4 linked regions of the Homo sapiens genome follow. The protein of the gene in region 3 interacts with the protein of the main gene of each other region in a pairwise test. Each region holds a gene or a part of one and is shown on either strand. Other genes may lie near its edges.

What was found.
Region 1: the proteins of SOX7 (region 3) and SCAI interact in binary tests that used the Homo sapiens proteins (3 or more experiments, as listed by UniProt).
Region 2: the proteins of SOX7 (region 3) and GLRX3 interact in binary tests that used the Homo sapiens proteins (3 or more experiments, as listed by UniProt).
Region 4: the proteins of SOX7 (region 3) and APBB2 interact in binary tests that used the Homo sapiens proteins (3 or more experiments, as listed by UniProt).

What each region holds. Positions count from the first base shown.
Region 1 is NC_000009.12:125,133,522-125,140,559, reverse strand, and holds part of SCAI (protein SCAI), read left to right. Parts: intron 1-7,038. UniProt on the Homo sapiens protein: Tumor suppressor which functions to suppress MRTFA-induced SRF transcriptional activity. May function in the RHOA-DIAPH1 signal transduction pathway and regulate cell migration through transcriptional regulation of ITGB1.
Region 2 is NC_000010.11:130,174,372-130,180,191, forward strand, and holds the end of GLRX3 (glutaredoxin-3), read left to right. Parts: intron 1-495; coding exon 496-535; intron 536-625; coding exon 626-718; intron 719-4,970; coding exon 4,971-5,021; 3' UTR 5,022-5,301; downstream 5,302-5,820. UniProt on the Homo sapiens protein: Together with BOLA2, acts as a cytosolic iron-sulfur (Fe-S) cluster assembly factor that facilitates [2Fe-2S] cluster insertion into a subset of cytosolic proteins.
Region 3 is NC_000008.11:10,727,512-10,734,812, reverse strand, and holds the start of SOX7 (transcription factor SOX-7), read left to right. Parts: upstream 1-4,301; 5' UTR 4,302-4,379; coding exon 4,380-4,617; intron 4,618-5,182; exon of another isoform or gene 5,183-5,522; intron 5,523-7,301. UniProt on the Homo sapiens protein: Binds to and activates the CDH5 promoter, hence plays a role in the transcriptional regulation of genes expressed in the hemogenic endothelium and blocks further differentiation into blood precursors.
Region 4 is NC_000004.12:41,008,537-41,015,574, forward strand, and holds part of APBB2 (amyloid beta precursor protein binding family B member 2), read right to left. Parts: intron 5,863-7,038; coding exon 5,047-5,862; intron 1-5,046. UniProt on the Homo sapiens protein: Plays a role in the maintenance of lens transparency, and may also play a role in muscle cell strength. Involved in hippocampal neurite branching and neuromuscular junction formation, as a result plays a role in spatial memory functioning.

The sequences.
Region 1 (7,038 bases), on a different chromosome or scaffold from region 3:
GTTACTAAAATTATTTTCACTTACTTTTTCCTGAGACAAAGTCTTACTTTGTTGCCCGTACTGGAGTGCAGTGATGTGATCTTGACTCACTGCAATCTCCGCCTCCTGGGTTCAAGCAATTCTCTTTCCTCAGCCTCCCGATTAGCTGGGATTACAGGCGCCTGCCACCATGCCCGGCTAATTTTTGTATTTTTAGTAGAGACGGGGTTTCAACATGTTGGCCAGGCTGGTCTTGAACTCCTGGCCTCAAGTGCTCTGTCTGACTAGGCCTCCCAAAGTGCTGGGATTACAGGTGTGAGCCACCGGGCCTGGCCTTCACTTACTTCTTTTTCCTTTTTATTTTTCTTCTGAGACAGGGCTTGGCTCTGTTGTCAAGGCTGAAGTGAAGTGGTGCAATCACAGCTCACTGCAGCCTCGACCTGGTAATCCTTCCACCTCAGCCTCCCAAGTACCTGGGACTACAGATGTGCACCACCATGCCAGGCTAACTTTTTATTTTTTGTAAGAGACAGGGTCTCACTGTGTTGCTCAGGCTGGTCTCCTGTGCTCAAGTGATGCGCCAGCCTTGGCCTCCCAAAGTGCTAGGATTACAGGCGTGAGCCACCATACCCAGCCTTTCTTTTTATTTTTTCTAATATGGCTACTAGAAAATTAAAAGCTGCATACATTTAACTTGCATTGTATTTCTTTGCATTGTATTTCTTTTGGATAGCTCTCATTTAACTCTCATTACCCCACTGCCAGACTCTTCAGTAGCCTTCTGACTGGTTTCCCTACCTTGAATCTGTAATTCCCTCCCTGTACTGTGCAAATCGATCTTGTAATTCTCATGCTTAGGATCCCTCTGTGCTTCCTCATTGCTTATTGAACATCATTCAGACTTTTAGCCTAATCATATAAAAAAATTGCCTTTATTTTACTTCTTCATACTTTCCCAGCCACGGTTAATACTTTGGCCATATCGATTTTCAATGATGGAACTATTAAATGTCTACTTTTAAATGATTTAACTTTCTGGTGAACCTTCAAGATGAATTAATTGCTGAATGTAACTCCGTGCTCCATTTGCCATTCCCAGAACTTATGTTCCCTCTTTGCTTTGGTTTTTTGTTTTTAGGGTTTTTGTTGTTTTTGTTGTTGTTGTTGTTGTTTTTTAAAGACGGTCTCACTTCAGGGTGGAGTGCAATGGTGTGACAATGGCTCACTGGAGCCTTGACTTCTCGGGCCCAGGTGATTTTCCCACCTCAGCCTCCCAAGTAGCTGGGACTACAGATGTGCATCACTATGCCCAGCTAATTTTTGCATTTTTTGTAGAGGTGGGGTTTTACCATGTTGCTCAGGCTGGTCGTGAACTCCTGGGCTTAAGCTATCTGCCTTCCTCAGACTCTCAAAGTGTTTGAATTATAGGCGTCAGCCACAGTACCTGGTCTGCTTTGGGTTTTTGTATGTGATTTCTTTTTCTTTCTGGAGTACTTTCTCCTTGCTCCTTGACAAGCCCCCTCCTTTAAGACTTTGCTCAGTGAGGGCTTCCCCCCACCCTCCCTCTGCTCCACCTTATTGGGTCCCATCATGGCCTGTACATACACTTACATGAAATGGTCTGGGCTGAATTTGAATTCAGCTCTGTCAAATGTAGTTTGCGAGATCATGTGCAAGTTAATAAGCCTGTCTCTGCCTCAGTTTCCTCATCTATATAGTAGAAATAATAGTTCTGCTGGCGTGGTGGCTCACGCCCGTAATCCCAGCACTTTGGGAGGTCAAGGTGGGCAGATCACCTGAGGTCGGGAGTTTGAGACCAGCCTGACCAACATGGAGAAACCCCATTTCTATTAAAAATACAAAATTGGGCCGGGCACGATGGCTCAATCCTGTAATCCCAGCACTTTGGGAGGCCAAGGCGGGCGGATCACAAGGTCAGGAGATCGAGACCATCCTGGCTAACACAGTGAAACCACGTCTCTACTAAAAACAAAAAAAATCAGCTGGACGTGGTGGCAGGTGCCTGTAGTCCCAGCTACTCAGGAGGCTGAGGCAGGAGAATGACGTGAACCCGGGAGGCAAAGCTTGCAGTGAGCTGAGCTCATACCACTGCACTCCAGCCTGGGCGACAGCGAGACTCCGCCTCAAAAAAAAAAAATTGGCTGGGCGTGGTAGCGCATGTCTGTAATCCCAGCTACTCGGGAGGCTGAGGCAGGAGAATCGCTTGGACCCAGGAAGTGGAGGTTGCAGTGAGCCGAGATTGCACCATTGCACTCCATCCTGGGCAACAAGAGCGAAACTCTGTCTCCAAAAAAAAAAAAAAAAAAAAAAGAAATAATAGTTCGACTTCCCCAAGGTTGTAAGGTGCCTAGGATAGTGCCTGGCACATAGAAGGTACACAATAAATTTTAGGTTAAAAAACACCCATCAAATATCTTTTATTTCCCACTTCTTTTCAAAATGAGAAGATTAAAAATAAAGGCCAAGAAGAAATGAAAGAAGCAGATAAAGCCAGTGGCAGAATTAGTGCATGGACCGGAAAGTCCTGCATCATTGCTAATGGTTGCTTTGGTGTTTGGCTCTGAGTTTTCTGGAGTAAAATGAAGAAGAAAATAAAGTTCAGTTTTCAGATTCATGGTATCTCTAAAATCAAACGTGAGTTTTTAAAGATTGCTTCTTGGCCAAGCGTGGTGGCTCACATCTGTAATCCCAGCACTTTGGGAGGCTGAGGCGGGTGGATCACCTGAGGTCAGGAGTTTGAGACCAGCCTGGCCAACATGACGAAACCCCATCTCTACTAAAAATACAAAAAATTAGCCGGGCATGGTGGCGCGTGCCTGTAATCACAGGTACTCAGGAGGCTGAGGCCAGAGAATCTCTTGAACCTGGGAGGTGGAGGTTGCGGTGAGCTGAGATTGCACCACTGCACTCCAGCCTGGGCAACAGAGTGAGACTCCGTCTTAAATAAATAAATAAAGATTGCTTCTTATACTTCTCAATCCAAGTGAGTTATTGCCAGTGAACAGTCTCCACGGGGCCAAAGCAATGTGGTTTTGGTATATGGCTCTCTGATGGTTTGGCTTGATTCAGAGGTAAAGAGGGATGCGTACACTGTGGGGACTATACGTGTTTTGTTCACTGTTTATCCCCAGCAGCTAGAATAGCATCTGGCACGTAGAGAACAGTTTATTGAATTTTTGAGTGAACAAATCCTTTAGTAATTCTCCAGGAATTTAAGTAAGCATCAGGTTGCAATGAGTTTATTTTCTCAGTCCAGAATCATGAGGCTACATATTCAGCATGCCTGATTTAGGTTAGATCCTGATCATGTCAGCATTTTGACCTGAATGGACAACCAGCACATGTATTTAAAGGTCCTATGGGCAGGACCAAGATTTTCCTCAGAAAACAGTGCAGGGGTTGCTCTAAAACTAGAAAACAAAATGTACAGTTAAGACCCCAAAGATGAATTATAGAATAAGGATGTAATGGTTGTAGCCAGATATTTAAAAAAATAGGTGTTAGGCCGGGCGCGGTGGCTCACACCTGTCATCCCAGCACTTTGGGAGGCCGAGGCGGGTGGATCACAAGGTCAGGAGTTCAAGACCAGCCTGACCAAGATGGTGAAACCCCATCTCTAAAAAATACAAAAATTAGTCAGGCACAATGGCGCATGCCTGTAATCCCAGTTACTTGCGAGGCTGAGGCAGGAGAATCACTTGAACCTGGGAGAAGGTTGCAGTGAGCCGAGATCGCTGCACTCTAGCCTGGGTGACAGAGCAAGACTTCGTCTCAAAAAAAAAAAAAAAAAGTGGTATTAGTTGCCGGGCATGCTGGCTCACACCTGTAATCCCAGCACTTTGGGAGGCCCAGGCTGGCAGATCACGAGGTCAGGAGTTTGAGACCAGTCTGGCCAATGTAGCGAAACCCCGTCTCTACTAAAAGTACAAAAATTAGCCGGGCGTGGTGGCAGGCAGCTGTAATCCTAGCTACTCAGGAGGCTGGGGCGGGAGAATCGCTTCAACCTGGGAGGCAGAGGTTGCAGTGAGCTGAGACCACGCCATTGCACTCCAGCCTGGGCGACAAAGCGAGACTCCATCTCAAAAAAAAAAAAAAAAAAAAAAGAAAGGTATTAGTATCAGTTTTATACTGTGGCTATAGAAATTCTGAATATCAAATGATATAAATTCCTGGTAAACACTTCAAGATGAATTAATTGAGGCAGATGAATGGTGTGAGCCCAGGAGTTCAAGACCAGTCTGGGCAACATGGTGAAACCTCATCTCTACCAAAAATACGAAAATTAGCCAGGTGTGGTGGTACACACCTGTAGTCCCAGCTAGTTGGGAGGCTGAGGTGGGAGGATCAGCTGAGACTGGGAGGTGGAGGCTGCAGTGAGCCATGATTGCACCACTGCACTCCAGCCTGGGCAACAGTGAAAACCTGTCTCAAAAAAAAAAAAAAAGGTAAGTTAATTGTTGAATGTAGCCTTGAGTAACTGATTGAACGGGTCTGCTATGTAGAGTTGTTGACAGTTATATTACATATGTAGTACATTTTAGAAAACAGTTGACAGAATTATGGTTTTTTTTTTGTTTTTTTTTTTTTTGTTTGAGATGGAGTTTTGCTTGTTGACCAGGCTGGAGTGCAATGGTGTGATCTCGGCTCACTGCAGCCTCTGCCTCCTGGGTTCAAGTGATCCTCCTGCCTCAGCCTCCTGAGTAGCTGGGATTACAGACATGCGCCACCACACCCAGCTAATTTTGTATTTTTAGTAGAGATGGGGTTTCTCCATGTTCGTTAGGCTGGTCTTGAATTCCTGACCTCCGGTGATCCGTCCGCCTTGGCCTCCCAAAGTGCTGGGATTACAGGCATGAGCCACCATGCCCAGCCCAGAATTAGGATTTTAAAAATTTTTATTTAGTTTTGAGATGGAGTCTCACTCTGTTTCCCAGACCGGAGTGCAGTCATGCTATCTCGGTTCACAGCAACCTCTGCCTCCTGGGTTCAAGTGGTTCTTGTGCCTCTGCCTCCTGAATACCTGAGATTACAGGGGCGCACCACCATGCCCAGCTAATTTTTTCTGTTTTTAGTAGAGGCGGGGTTTCCCCATGGTGGCTAGGCTGATCTCGAACTCCTGGCCTCAATTGATCCGCCTGCCTTGGCCTCCCAAAGTGCTGGGATTACAGGCGTGAGCCATCGTGCCTGGCCTAAAATTATGATTTTTATTTTAGGATATTGATGTTAAATAATTCTTTTTGATAGGTGTTAGTTAGTGGCTGAGTTATCTTTTGAGAACATTTCTAGTGCAGACCAAACTGTAAGACAGTTTAAGAAAAACAAAGACAGTTTGAGATAAGAACCTCATGCATTATTATTTCTTTGTATCTTTTTCCCCTTAAAACTTTTATTTCCTTATCATAGTTCATCTTTGCACCCTTATAAGGTACTAAGGGGGAGCTCAGTAAAACTAGTGAACCAATAAATGAATTGGTGGCAAGAGGAGTTAGTGTGGGATGGGTTTGGTTGTCCAAAATAATGTGATACTATTTAATGCCCCTGAAAAACTGCAATGGACTGAAAGGAGTTTTAAGATTAGGAAACTGGCCGGGCGTGGTGGCTCATGCCTGTAATCTCAGCATTTTGGGAGGCTGAGGCGGGCGGATCACCTAAGGCTGGAAGTTCAAGACCAGCCTGACCAACATGGAGAAACCCCGTCTCTACTAAAAATACAAAATTAGCCTGGCGTGGTGGCGCATGCCTGTAATCCCAGCTACTCAGGAGGCTGAGGCAGGAGAATCGCTGGAAACTGGGAGGCGGAGGTTGCAGAGAGCCGAGATCGTGCCATTGCACTCTAGCCTGGGCAACAAGAGCGAAACTCCATCTCACACACACACAAAAAAGATTAGGAAACTTGGTCTCTATGTGCTTTTGGAAAATTCTGAAGAGTCCAATATGTCTGTTAATGATGTTTGGGTTATGAGTTGGAGAATCCTTTCTGGTCCTATTAGGAACAAGATCCATTTGTTTGGATAGGATTCACATTGATGAAAGCTTTACTGTATGATTTGGGGGCTTTTGTTGTTGTTGTTGTTGTTACATATTTAAAGCAAAGAGATCCGGGCATTTTGTTGTTGTATGTAATTTGTTTAAGAAACATTTGAATGCTTTCTAGTTCTGGGTTCTAGGGATATAGATATGAGTGAGGTGGCCGTTGTTGGGGAAAATCTCATGTATTAATGGGAAGACAGACACTGAAATATGAGACAGTGTAATGACTTTGTATATATACAAAGGTTTACACAGTACATACAAAGGGTTTATAGGAATTCTGCATAGTGGTAGTGAGGGCAGTTTCTGCAGTCATTTATCTAAGCCCTGAAGGTTTAGAAGGTTAATTTGTTGGTAGTGTGACTATTGAAATGACAAGAGATGACAGCCTAGATGTAGACTGACTAATAATGAGGTCTTGGGTGAACTAAATTCAGGACCTGAACCAAGATAGTGCCAGAAGTGGAAAGAAAGATGTTTTTAAGAGCTTGGGCTGTGGTGTCAGACTAAGGGGTGGTTCTCAACTAAGGGGGTTTTGCCTCCTAAGGGACATTTGAGAATGTCTGGAGACATTTTGGGTTGTTACAACTTGGAGCACCTAGTGAGTAGAGGCCAGATATACTGCTACACATCCTAAAATGCATGGGACAGCATCCTAATCTAAGAGTTCCCCAGCTCAAAATGTCATTAGTTCTGAGGCTGAGAAATCTTGCATTAGAGTTTGAATCCTAGCCCTTCCAAATGTCCTCACCAATACTTGGTCTTGTGATTCTTTCTTTTTTTTTTGTTTTTTGAACAGGTCTGTAGAGGTACAGTTGGCATACAGTGAGCTGTACATATTTGAAGTGTACAATTTGATAAGTTTTGAAATACATGTATACCCTTAAAACCACCACCATTGTTTGCCATTCTGTGGGTGTACACTGGTACGTGTCATTGTGGTTTTCATTTGCCTTTCCCTGATGACTGATAATGTTGAGTATCTTTTCATGTGCTAATTTGCCATTC
Region 2 (5,820 bases), on a different chromosome or scaffold from region 3:
GAGTGTTCAGTTAATGAAGGCTCGTGCAGATGGGGGTGTGGGTCTGATCCAGGGGTTGGCAAGTTGCAGCTGGCTGCCCATTTTTGTAAATAAAGTTATATTGGCACATAGCCACATCCCTTCATTTATACATTGTCTGTGGCTGCTTTTATGCTGACAGTTGCAGCAGAGAGCAGAACTGAGCAGTTGCAGCAGAGACTGTCTGGCCTGTAAAGCCTGAAGTGTTTAGTGTCTGACTCTTTAAGAAGAAGTTTGCCCACCCCTGGTCTAACCCAATATTGTCCGGAGAAAAATCCAGATAAAGTCATATGTTGGAATGACTAATTCTGTGTAGTACCAGACAGATTAAGAAGTAAAATCATTTCCATTGGTCTGTAGTACATTTTGTTAGCAGTGAAACGGTTTTCTTGATTATTTTAAAAACATCAAATGCATAGAGGTTTTACACTTTGATTTAACTGTATTTCCAGTTAAAATGTCTTCTCTTTTTTGCAGTGTTGAATATGAAACATTCGATATATTGGAGGATGAAGAAGTAAGTTCTGTGTTTGATGTTTCACCCTTGTCTTAGCTTTAATCTTAAGGGCCTGATAGGATGGTTTCAGGATTCCTGTTGTTTCTTTAGGTTCGGCAAGGATTAAAAGCTTACTCAAATTGGCCAACATACCCTCAGCTGTATGTGAAAGGGGAGCTGGTGGGAGGATTGGATATTGTGAAGGTAAGGCCAGTTCTTCTGCTGTTCTAAAGAACGGAAAAGATTTTGGTATGTTTAAAAATGATTTCATATTGAATGGAAACTTGAGAGTTGTTTTTGACTCCTGTTTCCAGCCTGACTCTCAGACATTTCTAGACCAGTATCACCGTTTCTGTGTGCATGACTACCCTGCCATTCTCACTGTCCCCACGTGGCAGCCTGTTCTTACTTTCACACCTGAGCTAACCATTGCATCTCCTTTCTGTGGGGTGATCTTCCCTGTCACTCAGGGTCCTTGTTAGATCCTGCTTCAGCTCCCAGACAACAAATTGTTTTTTCTTGCCTTACTCATCTGCCCTTGGGTGCATGGAGTGACAGCAGTGTGAGGCCTGTGGCCCGGTGCTGCCCATCCTTGCCACAGAGGCTGAGGATCACTGCCCCTGGTCCCCCGAAAGAAAAAATGTAGGTCCTTTTTGGTTTTGAGATGCTTGGAAATCTGTTATCTGTTAGATTGTGTTTTAGATAAGACACCATTTCTTATGTATCTTGAGTCCTTCCTGATGCTTTGTGTATTTTAGGAGTTCAGTAAATGGTTGTTGGATGGATAAGTGACTTTACTTCTTGATTGAGTTTTAAATGGACGTTACTTTGCATGTATTTAATGTCTAGAATTCAGGGCAGGCCCACCAACTAACACCTGTGTGCTCTGTAGCTCTTTGATTAGCCCAAAACAATAAACAGAAGCTGTAGCTTTAATATCTACACACAGACCCCACTGCACCCCAGGCCCACTGTGGGCATGGTGGCATCGAGGAGGGTGGTAGCTGGTTGGGTATAGAGAGGAGCTAGACAGGAATGCTGGGCAGGAATGCCAGGGTCTGCTCAGGGGCATGAACAAAACTGCCCCGAAAAGTGGGTTGCTGACTGCCCTCAGGCCTTCCTCTTGCCTCAATCCATGAGAGAATTTTCTGAGGTCAGATCTTCGACTTTTTATGTGGAAAACAAATAGCAAGTAGTACTACTTCTAGTTATGTTGTAAAATAAAAGTTTTTTTTTTTTTTTTACATTTTTTTTTGAGAGAGTTTCGCTCTTGTTCCCCACTGGAGTGCAATGGTGCAATCTCGGCTCACTGCAGCCTCTGCCTCCCAGGTTCATGTGATTCTCCTGCCTCAGCCTCCTGAGTAGCTGGGATTACAGGCACCCGCCACCACGCCCCACTAATTTTTGTATTTTTAGTAGAGATGGGGTTTCACCATGTTGGCCAGGCTGGTCTTGAACTGCTGACCCCAGGTGATCCGCCCACCTTGGCCTCCCAAAGTGCTGGGATTACAGGCATGAGTCACCGCGCCTGGCCAAAATAAAAGTTTTTAACACGTGCTTTTGTAAAGTGAAGCACTAGCCTACCACTGAAATGACATCAGCACTTTGGACCAATATGTTTTATAAAAACAAAGCTTGAGTTCCATTGATGCAGAGGCTCTTTTTGTCCTTTGGTGGCCTCTGTGTAGGTTTTGTTTCCTGTGGAGTTCCAGGTTTGATATCATACTTCTTAAACAAGCCAGTGAGACATTTTTCCTGGGGAATGGTCTCACTCCTGGAGGAAAAAATTTTTAAGACTATTGCTCTTGAATAGCCCTGAAGCAGCAGAAACAGATCTGCATTTGTTTCTTCCCTCCCTCCCTCCTTCCCTCCCTCCCTCCCTCCCTCTTTCTCTCTCTCTCTCTCTCTATATATATATATATAGTCTTATTTTTGTAAGACACAAAGAATACTCAAACCCCAAATACTCTTGAGCCTGTTCTTGTCTGAATGTTTTATAGCCTGTACCTTAGCCATTGGTAACTCTTGGGAAGATACAATCAATAAATCTCATTTAATTCTAAAGCTAAGCTGCGTGGGTAACTTCTTTTTAGTTATATAACAGAGTGTTATATGATTTTTTATGTTCACCTGCTAAGAACATATACGTTTGAAATGTGTGATATTGTTAACGTTTTTCCTTGAGAAGATATATGGAATAGATCTTACGATCCCATTTTGATCTGTTTCTTGCAGAATGCAGTTCTTCATGTTCAGTTCAATTAAAAGATGTTTGAAATGGTCTAATCTGGCTGGCCTCTTTGGAGCAATGAGCGTTTGTTTTGTTGAATGAGGGACTGAATGATGATTTAGTTACTCAGCTAATCTAGTGTCCTGAGAAAATTGTGAGTTGTTATTGCCTCTGAAGAGTAAACGGTTCACTACTGCTGTTCCAGAATGTTTGGACTTAAGACAGTTTGTTGAGAGAGATAGAAGATTTGGTTAGGTTTAGACTTTCCACCTGCCGGCTCGCATTAACAGCAGTGAGGGTGGCGAGGACTGCCTTATTTGGCGCGCTCCCAATGTTCCAGGCACACTGCTTTGGTGCTTTAAGAGGCTGCTTCACGTAATCTCCCAAGCAGCCTCAGAGAGCAGAATTCTTCTTAGTCAGTAGATGAGGAAACAGAGACATAGAGAGGTCAGGTGAATTGTCCACCATCCCATAACTAGTAAGCCATTGAGTCCAGATTCCACCTGAGGGCCACCTGCCCTTGCCCACTCAGCTGCGTGGTCCTCTCCGTGCCTTCTTGAGTGTGTGCTCAGAAAAGTCCTGCTGGGTCCCTTGGAGGGGCAGGGTGTCTGCTTGTTGAGTAGGTAGAAGAAGATCCCTAGACATGACTGAAAGCCGTCTGGGTTTTGTGTGACAGCATCATTCCTATTTGAATTTCATCCAGAGGAGGTCATACGGATTTTAATGGTTTTATTGATTGATGTTTATGCTGTTCAGTGATAACCTGAAATGTTATATCATACTAAATGTTTCTTTAAACCAGAAAATCTTATTTATCATGTCTGTCCTTTCAAGCTTGGTGTCTATAATCCAGATTTTAAATCTGAAAAACAGGCACAAGGAGCATGGCGCCTGTACTGCAGTTCCAGTCAACCTGGTGGTAGCTCTTTTGATGCCATGTCTGTTTCTGAATTGTTAGGTCTTTTTAATGGTTTCTGCCTTTCCCTCTTACTGGTACTCTAGCTTTTCCTGAGGCAGAGATGTGTTGCCAGGTTGGGTTTCAATAGCAAAGCCTGATTCCTCTCTGTGAGTGGAAGAACGGGAGGGGAACAAGCATCATATTTGAGTAGACTTTTAACGTCACACTGCTTTTTTTTTCTTCCTTTTTTTCGAGACAGAGTCTCACTCTGTCACCCAGGCTGGAGTGCAGTGGTGCAATCTTGGCTCTTGGGTCACTGCACCCTCCACCTTCTGGGTTCAAGCAATTTTCATGCCTCAGCCTCCTAAGTAGCTAGAATTACAGGCACATGCCACCATGCCCACCTGGCTAATTTTTTTTTTAATAGAGATGGGTTTTGTCATGTTGGCCAGGCTGGGCTTGAACTCCTGACTTCAAGTGATCTGCCCCCTTGGCCTCTTAAAGTGCTGGGATTATAGGTGTGAGCCACTGCGCCCAGCCACATTACTTCATTCTTCAACCTTGAAAGTCACTTGATTTATTTTCCTTATTTATTGCTACAGTTTAAATAGGGGCTTCATTGGCTCCAGTTGCTGCGTTTCCTAATACTAAACAATCTGTTGGTTTTAGGATACCTTAACTTCATTTATTTATTTATGAATGAATGAATGAGATGGAGTCTCGCTCTAGCCCAGGCTGGAGTGCAATGGCACGATCTTGGCTCACTACAATCTCCACCTCCCGGGTTCAGGAGATTCTCCCTGTCTCAGCCTCCTGAGTAGCTGGGATTACAGGTGCCCGCCACCATGCCCAACTGATTTTTGTATTTTTAGTAGAGACGGGGTTTCACCATGTTGGCCAGGCTGTTCTGCAACTCCTGACCTCAGGTGATCTGCCCTCCTCGGCCTCCCAACGTGCTGGGATTACAGGCATGAGCCACTGCACCCAGCCTTATTTATTTATTTTTTAAGAGACAGATTTCACCATGTTGGTCAGGCTGGTCTTGAACTCCTGGCCTCAAGTGATCTGCCCACCTCGGCCTCCCAAAGTGCTGGGATTACATTTGTGAGCCACCACACCTGGCCAAGAATACCTTGTTAAATTTTTTAACCTGATAGTGTATTCAGGGTTTATGGCTCATTTAGTTTGAGAGTGTTAAGAGACTGGAGTTTTAATCCAATAGGTGTTTCTTTTGGTTCTCAGATATACATACAAGCTGTGATTGTTTAGATGTTTCCATCTTTTTATATATGCATATACATATTATTATTGTTGTTTTTTATTTTTAGGAACTGAAAGAAAATGGTGAATTGCTGCCTATACTGAGAGGAGAAAATTAATAAATCTTAAACTTGGTGCCCAACTATTGTAAGAAATATTTAATTACATTGGGAGCAGTTCATGATTTAGTCCTCAGAAATGGACTAGGAATAGAAAATTCCTGCTTTCTCAGTTACATGTTTTGTGTATTTCACAATGTCGTGCTAAATAAATGTATGTTACATTTTTTTCCCACCAAAAATAGAATGCAATAAACATCTTCAAATTATTAACAATAATTGTATGAAAAAAGTGTATCTTTACAGCAGTATTAAACATACAGCTACTATAATTAACCCACCTTAAATCTCTTTTTCTTAGTACATGAGTATCTTCTAGCAGTTAAGAAAGGCAGTCTTCAGAAAATGGAGAACTGTGGCGGAATGCAGTACACAACAGTATTTAGGACAACTCCTTTGCCAACACAATGGCTCCCCTCGCTGGTGAAAGATCTCTTTACAGCTTAGGAAAAACAACGGAAATTAGTTTCTGATGTCATTGCTGAGCTCGGCACTGGTTACATTGCAGAGGCAGTGTAGGATGTCTGCAGGTTTAGAGACTCATTTCACAAGGCACCAGTAGTGAATTATCAAGAAACATTTAAGAGGAAAATGATTTCTCATTGAATATGGTACAACAAGCACTTTTTTCATAAGGTCTAGAAGAATGGGTAGTCATGACAAAGAATGGAAAAGTATTGTCATTTGTTGTAAGCATCACTACTTTTTTTTTTTTTTCAGACGGGGTCTGGCTCTGTCACCCAGGCTGGAGTGCAGTGGCACGATTATGGCTCATTGCAGCCTCGACTTCTCGGGGCCA
Region 3 (7,301 bases):
CGCGGGAGGCGGGGCTGGCAGGCCTGGCCGGGTCTCCCCTCTCTGCAGCCCGCACCTCGGCCGTGGCCAGCAGGGTTTGGCCCCTTGCTTTTCACGTTACCTTGTTCAGGACACGCCTTAAACTGAAGGCACCCTGTGGATGAGGAAAGGCGCAGTGGAACTTCCAGAGACCAGGCTAGAGGGGGCGCAAAGCCAGGAGGCGTCGCAGCGGCTGGTTAGAAGCACTTCCCTCGAGCTGGGGCACTACCGGGGCGCACAGGAACCTGGTAGTCCAGGCGTGAGGTCAGGAGCCGTGCGCTGGGGTCTGTGCTCTGGCCTTTGTAGCCGCAGCCTCACCCGCCTTGTATGGGAAATGGCTCAGTCCTAAAACTCTGGGCCTTCTGCTTCGAGGGTTGTGTGGAGGCGGGGATGAGCCAGTGAATGGGAACCTGCTTTGCAAAGACTGCCAATCAAGTACAGACAAATCAGCGTGATCAAAGATGGTGATGATAATGACTTCAACCTCTAGCCTGGTGTGAGGAACTAAAAGCAACCACAGAACACTTGCACCCAACGCCTGCGGGCGCTGCCGCGGGCCTCCGGAGCATGCGCGGTGGCTCCGCCCAAGGCAGGCCGTGGGCCCGGGACGCGCCTGGTCCGGTTCAGAGCTCCGGGTTCGCGGCGGGTTCGGAGCAGGTGCCAGGGGTACCGTGGCGGGATTGCCCTCTCCCTCCCCCTCCTTCTCCCCCTCCCCCTCTTCCTCCCTCTTCTCCTCCCCCTCCCTCTCCCCTTCCCCCCAGGGCAGCTGAAATTCCTCCGTTTGGAATAGAATAAGAACAGCTCCTGGAGAGGAAAGTTGTGGAGGCCCGACTTTTTTTTTTTTTTTTTTTTTTTTTTGGTTTTCGCCCACTCACGATTTCATATTTCACAACTCAGAAAAGTCTACTAGGAGCTTTTACAAACACTGTGTCAGCCACCTTGTATTATCCCCATTTTACCGGTGAAGAAACTGAGGCCGATAGTAGTTAAGTCAGTTATCAAAATACAAGTGAATTGCAGGAAATTGGAATTGGGGATTTCTGGCTTCGGGCCCTGTGTCCTTGGAAACCAGTGTTCACAGAACTACCGAGCTAAACGGACAGAGAAGGGGGTCGGGGAGAAAGGAGGGAAGGAAAAGAAAAGAAAGAAGGAAGAAAGAGAACATCTTTTAAGAGAGTGCAGTTCAGGTGACTCACGCGGGAGGAGTGAGCTGTGGTGGTGCCGCCAGGCCGGCTGCGTGGAGCACGCGCGGTGTCCAGTGCGCCCCGCGTCACCACACCCGGCCCTGCCTCTCCGCCTCTGCTTGGCGGCCCCTGCAGGAACCCCCAACCGGTCCTGCTGCGGGTCAGAGCCCCGCAAGATCCGGCCCGGTAGCCCTGGGCCTCGACCTTTCTCCTCCAGGTCTTCCAGGGTCCGCGCCGTGATGATTCGCCGCACCTAGCCTCGACCCAAGAGCCGCTGGACCCACCGCTGGCCGCGGCCCCGAACCCAGCGCTGGCGACAGCAAGTGTCGGGATGCCAGGGCTGGCGCCCTCCCCCTCTAGCTCAGCCCTCCGAACTCCAGGCTTTGGGGTCGCGTAGGGTCGGCGCGGAGCTCTAGGACTGAAGGTCGCAGTGACCAGAGAATCGGCGAGGTTATGGAGACCCCGCGTCCCTTGGCGTCGCCTGCACCAGGGCGCGCTCGCTTACAGTTGCCAAGGTGCATAAATGCGTCGACGCAAGGGAATGAAGGAATGGAGCGAGCGAGCCCGGCTACCGCGGTGCTGACAATTTCCAAGCCCCGGGCGGCGCCCGCGTCAGCGCTGGGAAGGTTAATGTTCACCTCCTGGACAGCCCAGGCTTGCAAGCTCGCTGCAGAGGAAAAGCAAGAAACTAAACAAGTGCAGACAATAATCACAGCACGTATTCTCTGGCCCCGTCCCCGTTGTTTTCTCTGTTGTTGCCATCGGTGTCTGGGATCTAACTTGACCATTCCGTGTTCCCTGGGGAGGGCGCATCTTCCTAACCTGGTGCCCGGGCGCGGCCCCACGGCTTTCGCGCTCTGCTCTGGGGCCTTGCAGGGAGGGTGCTACGGGCTGCGGCCGGGAGTGGGGACGCCCGTCGTCGGGAAGGGGGCGCTGTCCCCTCGTGGCCTCCGACCCTGCAGAGCACTGCCACCGCCCTGGAGCTCAGTAGGGTCAGAAAGTGTCGGGGACGAGCTCTTCCCGGGATCCTCCGCCGCCGCTCAATCCCCCCGTGGGACCCTCTTTCTCCCCTTTCTCAAATAGCTCCCTTCTCCTGGCCGGGCGCGGCCCTGGATCCCACGAGGCGCACTCTGGCCTAAGGGTTTTGCTGGAGGCATATGCGGGAAAGGGGTTGGCCAGTGGAAATGGCCTGGGCTTTGCAGGGTTGGGAAGTCCGCCTAGATGGAGGACGCACTCTCTGCAAACGGCCCCAGGTGGGTCCCCCGCCGCTTCGCCTCTGGTTCCAGGATGCTGCCCCAGCGGTGGGCACCCTGTTCTCTGCTCGAGCTGCGCAGCGCGCGCCCCGCCCCACACCCTTGTATTCCCGGCCCACCAGTGCAGCGGTTGGGGCGCACCGGCCTAGGGTGCTGCTACTGAATCCTGGCTGGAAAAGAGGGGCAAACCCAGCCATCTCTTTTGTGCGGAAAGCTAATTCTCGGATGAAAATTGTCCCCGGCTCTAGAGGTAAAAATTAGGACGTGAACACAGAGACGCTGCAGTTCACCTTACACTTGCCGGGTCTTAGCCGTCGGGCCCGTTGCATGTTGCATGCAAGGCATCGGTCGCTGCGCGCGGGGACATTGAAATCCGGACTCAGGCTCACGGGCTTCATGCCTAGAGTTATATTAACATCAAGCATCACAGGCAGGGTTGGAGCTTTCTCTGCATTTATCTCACCGAATCTTCACAACAGCCCCGGAAAGTCAGTCTTATCATTGTCCCGTGTTAGGATTAGGAAAAGAGATCCAGAGAGATGTGACTTGTCCAGAGTCGCGCGTTCAGTCACCTGAACACTAAGGTTCTGACTCCGGACCCCACGGCACCCCCGCACCCCCACAACGCTGCCTCCTTCCAGGATCACCTCTGTGGAGCCCCGCACATGGGTGGCGCTCAGTAAATTTTAAATTCCAGGATCTAGTCAAACCTGCCGACTTTCATTCAGTAGGTGTCTGAGCTATATTTGCTCACTCATTCTGCAGGCCTTGAGCGCCTACTGTGTGCCGGCGCTTATATGAGAGCGCGGGAACAGAGCTCCTCACAGGGGGCCGGGTGACAGGGGAGCTGCGGTGAGCGCGGCCGAGAGATGGCCGTGAGCTCCCAGCCTGCAGTCCCCAGGCTGCACGTGGGCCCGGCGCGCACGGTCGGTCTACACCAGGGTGTGCAGATGAGGGAAACTGGGGGAGTTCGCAGGTCGCAGCGCAGCCAGGGGGGGACGCGAGAGGGCGGGAGCGACTCCACTCGGAGAAGCGGGACTGCCAATCGGAGGAAGAAAGAAAAAATATAAGGAGAAAATTCAGGGTGAGAAGAGCCAGAAGTGAGGGAGCTGGAGGCCTGGACCCGGAGACTGGGTGCGGGTGGAGTGAGAGGAGAAATCAATCAGGTGGCTGAGAACCAGAACGACGGCCTCGCCCTCCTGAGAGCCAGGGGCGGCGGGGGCGTCGAGGGGTCTTGGGTGAGCACTGCACAGAACCCGAGGCGGGATGCGGCCCCCAGCCCCGGCTCCGGCCGGCCTCTGTGGCGGCCCAAGTTGACTGGGGCTGCGGTGGCCGAAGCCCGGTCATTTTCGAAAGGAATGGCAGTCGGAGTATTAAGAACGGCTGCTCTGAGGGGTTCATGGTCAATGTCTCTCACACCCAGGCGGGCTCGGCGAAACCTGGTTGGGTTGATTTTCTGAGGCCACACGCGCAGGGAGGGCGGTGGAGTCTGGCCCGGGCAGGCAGGGGCTGGAGCGGGCCTCCAGCGCCTGCCTTGCGTCTCTGCGGCACCTGCGGGTCCAGGGCAGGGGGCGGGAGGCGGCCCGGGGCAGCCGGGCGCAGATCCCCGGGCGGGCCCTGGCGGCGGAGGGGCGGGCCGGGGGCAGGCGCGGGGAGGAGGCCCTCCCTCACTCCCTCCCTCCGTCCTCCTCCCGGCAGGTCGGAGCGGGGACCCGGCGGCGGCCCGGGACGCAGGGAGGGGACCCGCGCCGACACCGAGGGAGGGGCCGCGCCGCCTTGGAGAGTCATTGGAGGACGCGGCCGCCCGAAGCTGATAAATCAGGGGCCGGGTCGCGGCTGCGGGCCAAGTTGGACGCCCCGACCCGTGCGAGGGCCAGGTCCGCGCCTGCCCCGCCAGGCGAAGCGAGGCGACCCGCGTGCGGCCATGGCTTCGCTGCTGGGAGCCTACCCTTGGCCCGAGGGTCTCGAGTGCCCGGCCCTGGACGCCGAGCTGTCGGATGGACAATCGCCGCCGGCCGTCCCCCGGCCCCCGGGGGACAAGGGCTCCGAGAGCCGTATCCGGCGGCCCATGAACGCCTTCATGGTTTGGGCCAAGGACGAGAGGAAACGGCTGGCAGTGCAGAACCCGGACCTGCACAACGCCGAGCTCAGCAAGATGCTGGGTGAGTGAGCGCGCGGCCGAGCGGGCTGGGGGCCGGGGGCGGGCGGCGGGCGGCTGGCGGCACTGCAGGGCGGGTGCGAGCGCGGAGCCTGGGGAAGACCCGGCACGCGGGACGAGGGCCCTCTTCGTGCCCGCGTGGCTGGCCATCTGCGCGAGCGTGGGTGCTCGCGGTGCCCAGGATTCAGAGCGGGGGCACTTGGCGCGGTCCAAAGTGAAACCGCGCGGCGGGCAGGGAGGCTCCTCTGCTGGGACAGGAGCGGAGATCGGCGCCCCAGGGGGCGGGGAGACGGGGCAGCGGCCAGGCCAGGACGCCTGGCGACAGGGACCGGCGTGCATGGACAGGGCAGGGACGGAAACGTTTGAGGCTGGGTGGAACAGGCGTTTACTAGGAATACCGAAGCGGGAAAAGCCAGCATTCCCTGGACCTTACAATTGGGCCATCTCAGAGGAAGGCTGTCACAGATGAAATTATAATTAACGAATATTCCCGAAGAGAGACCCTGAGGAACGAATCCTTGCTTTAACTAAACAATTAAGAGGAAAACAAAACAAAAGAAAAAGCTTACCCAAATAGACTCGATTCGTTCATCTATTGCTCAGTCTCGAAGGTGTAGATAACTTGATTCGGATGCTTGGGCTGTCCTGGAACCCGCTCTCTTCCTGAGCTGTCCCCGCAGGGACTGGGGACACGGACTCACCAGGTCCAAGAGGTCCAGAGTGAGGCTGTTAGGACACACCCGAACAACCGGAGTTCCTATGGGGGTTTCTTTTTTCTCCGGTGTCGAGCTGAGTACTTTTCAACCCTGCCTTCTTTGCCTTTCGACGAGGTTTTTATTCGTTTTAATCCGCGAAAAACTTTCAAAGCACTTGGTGCACGCAGCGGGAGACAGGCCCTGTAAGAAGGGCACCCGAGGCCGGCTCTACCCTTCCCAAACCCCACCCGGTCCGGAACAGAGCCCTTCCTTTTTTCGTCGGAGTTCAGAGCTCAGGGCTCTTTCCCGAGGCGGAACTTTGGGGATAGGACTGACGCCCCTCTTTCTGCTGGCTAAAGCCGCAGGCCCGCAGAGGGGGTCCCAGGCCGAGCCCTCCTGCGGTTTAGCTGCTGTGCAAAGCAGTTGATGGAGTGCTGGTTGCCAAGGGCCCAGCCTGGTGGCCGGCTGCACCAACTCGCCTTAGTGGTCTGGGGCCTTCTGGGGCCTTTTCCCTCAACAAAAATAGTAACATTTGTATTTTACACAGTGTTGGCATAAAGACAAATGTGTTAATATGTACAATAATAAAACATTTTATTTAACCTGTAAGTTTATATTTTTCTTCAGATTTTAAAAGAAGTGAAAATATGTTTGTTGTGGATCCCCAAACTTTTTTTTCCACGGACCGTGGGCACTGTGCCTGTTGACCCTGCCAACAGGGGGAAGCAAGCCCCTGCTGTGACCGTGACAGAGGAGGAATTCTGTGCAGGCCTGGGCCAGGGAATGGGGAGGAGAGAGGAGCATGGCTCTGCAGAGTTGGGGAAGCCTGCTCCCAGGAAAGGGGCAGGGACAGGGACACAGGAGACAGATGCTTCCTGCGAGTTGGTCCCCATCGGGGCCTGCACTTCAGCTTCAGGAGGTTACAGTTCATTCTGCAGAAAAGACACAGATTCCTTCCTGCTGAGCCATGTAGCTCCTGGCACTGGGTGAGGGAAACCGCAACACTGGTGCTTTTCACAATATGGACTTGTGCACCTGTTAGTAGGGGGCAGCAGGATGATCCCCTCCACCTGTGTGACATTTCCTTCTCAGCTCTTTCCTTTCTGACCTGAGAGGAAAAGGCTGGATATGCGAGTCTCAACTTTTTCCACTATAAACCTTCCAAACCTTAACATTAAAAATGTGACCTAGTCACACTGGTATTTAAAATATATTATGAATGAGAAAGTGCATAAAGAGCAGTAGACCTTTGGTAGCATTTTTAAATGAACACGTATTTTATTAGTTATATAACATCCAGGTACATTTAAAAGCTACGGCCACATTTTATATTGAGACCACAGACAGAGTATGGGGTGCACCTGCATCTTGGGTCACTTGCCACAGCTTTGTAGCCTCAGCCACAGGCTGGGAACTGACGACCAGCCCTGAATCTGCAGCTCCTAACACTTTCAAGTTGCCCTTTTGAGTGACAGCTAATGATGTTAATTGAAAGCTCCATGGAATTTCTATAAATTTTCTCCCAATTGGTACAATGCCCTTAATCATTGCCCTCCCCTGGCTCTGAGCCCCTGGCCCAAGGAGCCAGTCAACGGAGGCACTGAGGGCTGCTGTGTGCACGGCTCTGCACCTGGCCCTGTGCAGAATGTGCTGAGTGGAACACAGGGCCCTTTCCTTAGGCCTTAACCTCTAGGCTAGCGGGTCTCAAACTTCAGGACACATTAGCATCATGGTAGAACATGTTAAAGTTGTAGAATCCTGAGCCCACCTTAGGAGGTAGCAAAGCAACCCAAGGGGTCCAGAAGCCCCCCACCCCTAGAAACCACTGCAGAAGGGTGTGCAGTGCACACTGATAGATGAGGGAAGATGCTCCGGGAACTTGAAAAGCAACAGACAAGCAAGCAATGGTGAATAGAAGATCAAGCGCAGCCAGCATATTAGCACCAGTGGGTTGCAAGCATGGAATAATTTTTAAAGAGAGAGTTTGGAGCTG
Region 4 (7,038 bases), on a different chromosome or scaffold from region 3:
AGGTCCAGAAAGTCGTAACTCAGAGTCCAAAATATAGGTAATTCATAATTAAGAGAAAAGCAAACTTTTATAACACACCACTGTACTGATACTGTCTCTAATATAATAATCATGAATATTCATTGAGCTCTTGCTATATGCCAGATACTGCTCCTAAAAGCTCTTTGAAGATGCTCTCGCTTAATCTTCACAGCAGGTCTATGCCAAAACACTCTTATCCCCATTTTATAGATGAGAGGCTATGAGAACTGCCTAGATATAGCAGAGCTGGGATTTGAACTCAGGAAGCTCACTCTAGAGCCTATGCTCTTAATGATAAGTTAATGGATCATGAGGCGCATTGCCACACCCATCTAGACTTGGGACTTGGTTTTCTCTGTGTATAATTCTGCTTTTGTACACTTTAGCAATGAATCTGATTTTGAAACAGTTACTACACAAGATCCATCTAGTTTCATACTCTGTGTCTTCAATTTTATTAAATCCCAAACTAAACATAAAATTACATGTGGGTACCACTGAAACCTGTACCCAGGAAGGTTCAAAATGATGCATCTTTTCAACGTTTTCATAAAGCAAACATGAAACACTAAGTGATTAACAGAGAGACTATATACAGTGTGACCAACAGGTATTTATTTATCTGAGCCATCATGCTTACTACCTGGGGCCACTGAGGGAACTGTATCTTTGAAAAAAACCCTAACTAGATTCAAAGTTCTCACTTTGCAGTAGCAAGATACAACCTTTCTTTTAGAATCAGGGCCAAGGCACTCTTTAACTTTTCTAAACTCCTATGAAAATAGTCATTTCACAGATGCTTTTCCTTTTTCAAATAGCCTCTTGTTTTCTTAAAGGACAGACTACAGAGGAGGAAAAGGGCAGCCACATATTGTATACATGATTGATTGTACAAAAAGAAGTTACTAAACAGCTGGAGGGGGCGATTCAGTAGTAAAGGAAAATAGAAAGTAGTCAGTCTCTAGGTTAGCCATTGCATTTTATTGTATAAATAGCATTCTAACTTGGAAAGGATGCCCCTGAGGTAGAAATGAGTCTATTTTTCTAGGCTCCCCAAAGTGCAGTCTACGATCCAAAGATAATTGCATCATGATTTAGTCATAAAACACACACCACTGTGATGACTATGTATTTAACACACAGCAAGTCAACAGACAACTATACCCTTTTTATACATGTACTATGGCATGGCATACTAAGATGTCACAAGATATTTGCTCTCGTTTTCTCTTTTCTTTCAACTGTTGGTATTTGTGTTTATTTTATATATATACACATACACATGTATATACTATATAAAACATACATAATAAACACTAACTTTATCATTACAAGTGAAACATACAATGTTTAATTTAGACTGATCATGATTATTTTAAACACTAACAGTATGTTTCACAGGAAGGATGAAATCAAAAGAAATACAATGCTAAAAAACTGCTTATTTTATTTCATTCACCAATCTATGTATTACCTGAAACCTGAAGTGTGATTAAAGCAAAGTGATTTCATTTCATGGGGATCCACAGCAGACTCTGAGGCAATTCCAAAAGAGGACTCCCAAAATTATGACTATTAATATTGAGACAGTGCAACATGCTGAAGCAGGTGCAGAGATCCCAAGTGAACATTTTGAAGGCTGGCATAGGTTTGGCTTCTAGTATATTTTTTAAAAACACAATCTCATTGCTTTTCGGTCACAGCTAATACATTTTTTCGAGCATATTTGATTTGAAATACCTATCCTCAGCAACTTATCAAGGGCCACCATCATCCTGTCAAAACCAACTTTCAGAGAGAAAACTAAGCATATCTTCTTAACATGTAAAAAAAACTCTAATCCAGTTCTCATCACAGGCCAAGCACTGTAAGATGTTCTGTGGAAACCCAACAGCAAGTAATGTCAGGACACTGAGCAAATGAGTGGTAAGTGTCACAGCAGAGGGGCCCCTGAAAGTCTTCCTGGAAAGAGGGAGTTAACGTGTACATTTCAAGAGTCCCAGTAGGTAGACTGGAGTGCACAAACTTTGCCCTCTCCACAGGCCCCTACTGACACCAGCACTCAATAAGCCAAGGGGCTATGGACAGAAATACCTAAATACTCATCAGCAGGGAACTTGCTAAATAAATCGTGGAACTTGTATATAGTGGAATAGTATACATAATACTTAAAAAGACTGACGTAGAAAAATGGACTGATCTACAAAATACGTTCTTACGTGAAAAAAAGCAAAGCATTCATAAAACAATCTAATTGGAGTAACTTTTTCCTGGTTTTAACTATTTATTGTGGCAAATTTTAAACATACAAAATTAGAGAATAGAATAATGAACCCGCACGTACCCATAATGCAGCTTTAACAATCAGCAGCTTATGGGCAATTTTGTTTCTTTTTTTATCCTTCTAATCCCAATTATTTTGGAGAAAATACCATACACAATATTGTTTCCATCAGTATGTGTTATACTGTATTATATATGTTATACTATGACATAGATTAGTATTTTATATTAGTATATATCTCTAAAACATAGGGATTCTAAAAACATCATCACAACATTTGGGTAAATTTTAAAATTGATTATTATTGTTTTTTTTTTTAATTTTAATTTAATTTAATTTTATTTTTAAATTTCTTTTGAGATGGAGTCTCGCTCTGTTGCCCAGGCTGGAGTGCAGTGGCACAATCTCGGTTCACTGCAACCTCTGTCTCCCAGGTTCAAGCAATTCTTCTGCCTCAGCCTCCCGAGTAGCTGGGACTACAGGCACGCACCACCACACCAAGCTAATTTTTGTACTTTTAGTAGAGACAGGGTTTCACGATATTGGTCAGGCTGGCCTTGAACTCCTGACCTGGTGATCCACTGCGCCTGGCCTAATTTTTATTTTTTGAGATGGAGTCTCGCCTGTCACCCAGGCTAGAGTGCAGTGGCGGGATCTTGGCTCACTGCAACTTCCGCCTCATAGGTTCAAGCAATTCTTGTGCCTCAGCCTCCCAGGTAGCTGGGACTACAGCCACCCGCCACCATGCCTGGCTAATTTTTAATGTTTTAGTAGAGAAGGGGTTTCACCATGTTGCCCAGGCTGGTCTCAAATTCCTGAGCTCAGGCCATCTCTCCACCTTGGCCTTCCAAAGTGCTGGGATTACAGGCGTGAGCCATCATGCCGGTCTTAAAATTTATTATTAATATGCGGATCTATGACTCAAACATTTTCTGAGAGGAAATAAAAACATAAGGTAATGGTCATCACTGGGAAAGGGGGCTGGGGTGAAGGGAAGAGGCAGCTTAATTATTCATTTAAAAATACATTTATGTTTTTTGAAACAGAGTCTCGCTCGATCACCCAGGCTACAGGGCAATGGCATAATCATGGTTAACTGCAGCCTCGAACTCCTGGTGTCAAGTGATCCTCCTGCCTCAGCCTCCTGAGTAGCTGGAACTACAGGCACATGCCACCGTCCACCATGCCCAACTAATTTTTTTGGAGGAGGAGAGATGGGGTCTTACTGGTCTTGAACTTGTGGGCTCAGGTGATCCTCTTGCCTCAGCCTCCCAAAGTGCTGGGATTACAGGCATGAGCCACTGTGCCTGAACAAAACTTTAGGTTAGTTTAAAACTTAACTACAACAGAACCGGCTATACCAGGAAGAGCAGCAGAAAGGGTGCCATGACCAGAGGGAGACAGCAAGGTGTCAGTAAACGCCAAACACAGGAAGTAGAGCTTGGCTGAAAGATGTGCAAGGAGTCTTTCATGTATTAATAGATTCAAACTCCAGCAGGTGACAATGTCTATCAGCTTCAGGATATGAATTCTCTAAATGGGTAAAAAGGATAGAGAGCTGTGAACTCAGGGACATTACTGAACATAATTATGATTCCAATAATGTGCAGGGCCAGACAGTTATGAGATGAAATGGCCTCATCTCAACCTCCCTACTGCCACATTCCACAGTAGTATGCATCATTGAAAGTACTGGGATTTTTAAAGGGCACTTCAAAAACGCTACTTTTTTTTTCTTCTTAAACAAGTTAATGTCTTAACTCCTCTTTTCCTTATCTTTAGTCCTTGTAATTTATCTACCTTATCGATTGTAAAAATGTGATTTCCTTCCCTGGTGGTTCTATCTATTTTCTTTGTTATATCTATATTAACACAGCCCTGGGACCCACTAGGGGAACTGCTGGACTACTTTTAAAAAATTAGCCTTTCTGAGTGCTTGTTTACGCTGAATTCAGATACAATAAGGTTCTCCACATTTTTCAATCTTAGAATCAGTATAGTGGGAGCTATAAGAAAATGATATTTAAAGTAGCTGACTTTTAGGATCCTGTTCATTTCTGTCACCATTTTAACACCTCCGACAAATCCAAAATATTACAAATATAGACAAAAGTCCAGAAAGACTGGTCTCAATTAGACTAGTTAAAAGTCTAAACTTCTGAATATATTTTTCAAGAAATACGATTTTCCCACTTTTAAATATTACTTAAGGCTAATAAAACACTCCTCAGTAAATGTCAAAAAGAGAAATGCCTTTAATGAACAGATGGCTAATGTTTTAACTTTTTATGCGCTTCACCATAAATAAGTTATTTTGAGGACTTTAAAATAGTTCTCTTAATTGGGTTATATCCTTCCCCCAACAACTTTGTTTCTTTTATTATTTTGCTTACCAAAACCCAGTATTTCTAGATAGCATATAGAAATGATCTACCTATGCACTGGAAGTGTAATTTCTAAATATATGATATTTTACTGTACTTAACACCAAGGATCTGTTTATTTTACAAAAATGCTTCCCAGAACAAACAACTTTATGCACGATCCAAAATGAAACTGACCTAAAATATGGTTGAGGAATGCAGTAATATTTTGCAAATAAATTGCCCAATTTTACCGCAAGAGGCTCACGTTCCTCTCTGCATAATGGACATTTTTGGTCAGTCTAGAGATTTACTCCAATAGTTGAAAAGATAAAAAAAAAAAAGTGCCAGCTGAGGCTACGCCTTCCCCAGGGGTACCTGTTTCATCCGGGGAGCTGGGTGAGGCACTGTCTTGGGACAACGTTGTCCAGCTGGACTCCTCATCGCTCGGTGCCAGGTTCTGGATCCGGTGCAGTGCACAGTCGGTTTTGGCCCCTGTTTTCGGATGATCCTTCTTGGTTTCTGGGCTGGATGACACTGTGGCTACTTGGCCGTCTTCAGGGCTGGACTGGGGTCTGTTTGGTTTCTGCAGCAGCAAATCGCCATTCCCAATGATGGTGGAGGCCTGGCCCTGGACTGGCTGGGATTTCTCTTCCGCAGTCCCATGGTGATTGCCTCGGTTCTGCTCTAGTTCTCTGGCTGAGGTTTCCAGATCTGCATAGTAATTTAGGAAGCTCTTAGTTCTCCTGGGCTGGGAGGGTAAAATCTCACAGCTCGAGGAATCCTGTGGGTGGGGCTCTTTACCCTCTAACTTCTCAGAAGTTATGTTGATGACTGCAGTGGGGCTCAGGTTTTTGTTGGGGTCCTGCTGCCCTTGCTCTGCAGCCTTACGGAGCTGGTTCTCCCCATTTTTCACCAGCTTGATGTTGGCAGAGCCATTTCCCAGCAGGGGCTGTGCAGCTGGATCCGAGAGGCCCATGGCCGCCTGGATGTTAGTTAGTGCATATTTTTTCCTGCATTTGGGAGGTGTGCTGTTCTTGGTTTCTGTGTGTTTTATTTCAGCGTTCAACAGTTCATTGTGGGAGGATCGGAGGTTAAGGGTGTTTGGTGGTGTGGCTGGGCTGTTCCGATTTGTGACGTCTGTAGTTCCGCTGCTGGCCATAAACACTGCCAAGGTGTCAACACCTGAGTCAGCTGGGGAAAAAAAAAGTCATTAGACACCTGCCATGATTAAACTACTTAGTATACAGTGTGAGTAAATATTTTTATATAGAAAACTAAAAGAAGAAATGCTTCCACTGCACATACATTCTCATAGAATGGACCCATTTTCCTCTTTATTTCACCATTTGTTCCTATATTAAACAGGAGCAAATAAAGGGCTTAACGTGGATAACCAAAAGCCAATTTATAGAAAAGCTAAGAAGTCTGAGGACCTAAATTTTACTTAAAATAAAAAAGCATTTCTCTTTGAATTCACATAAAAGCATTTTCTTCTGGTGGCTGGTCTTCATTTTTTACAAGCTTGAAAAATCATCCCCTTTCCAAATATTCCCACTACATTTTTATTCTTTGGTTCCTTCAGGCAACAACAAAAAATTGCTCAAGATTCCTCTGGGGCTTCAGCTTTCTTAATTAACCTGAAAGGTCATTGTTCAATGATGCTCCATACATCCAAGGTAATTTTTCTCAACCACGTTTAGAAACTGTGTTCTGAATGCCTGGAAAACTAACCCTCCATTAGAGTTTGCTAATGTCTTGGTGAACATTTTTGACCTGGGCTTACTGTTTGTACTAAACTGAAATTTTGAAGAAATGGCTTAATTTCTGAAGAACACGTACACACGCACACAAAACTATTACTGTAGCATTGAGCCCTTGGCTACAGACAACATGTTAGAGCTCCCAGAGGAGTCTGAATATATTCCACTGAATTAAAATACAGACTCAGCTGTTTGCAGTCATCACATGCCTCTGCAGAACTCCTAGGAAACTATCTGGCAACCGCATTTATCTCAAATATTGTTTGCGCCGTTAGTGATTTATTCTATATGTCTCTCGCTGGGAAGAAAGAAAGGTTTCTTAGACTAGAAGGGAATAAAATTCATCAGCAAGAATTCCTAAGGTTTCAGATTTCTCAATCTATGAGGAGTGACTTCTTTCTTATCTGATCCTTTTGCCCTCCACAGAGACTTTGGTGATCTCTACCTCAGCAGCAGATGAACCAAAGCACAGCTCCTGAAATTCCTGAAATTATATTCTGACAATTCCCTCTTCCTCCCCCAGGCAAAACAGGGATCTTTGCAGGAGAGAAGGGCAATAATTTCCTTGTTTGGGAGCTTAGAGGTATCTCTCCATCACCAAATACTT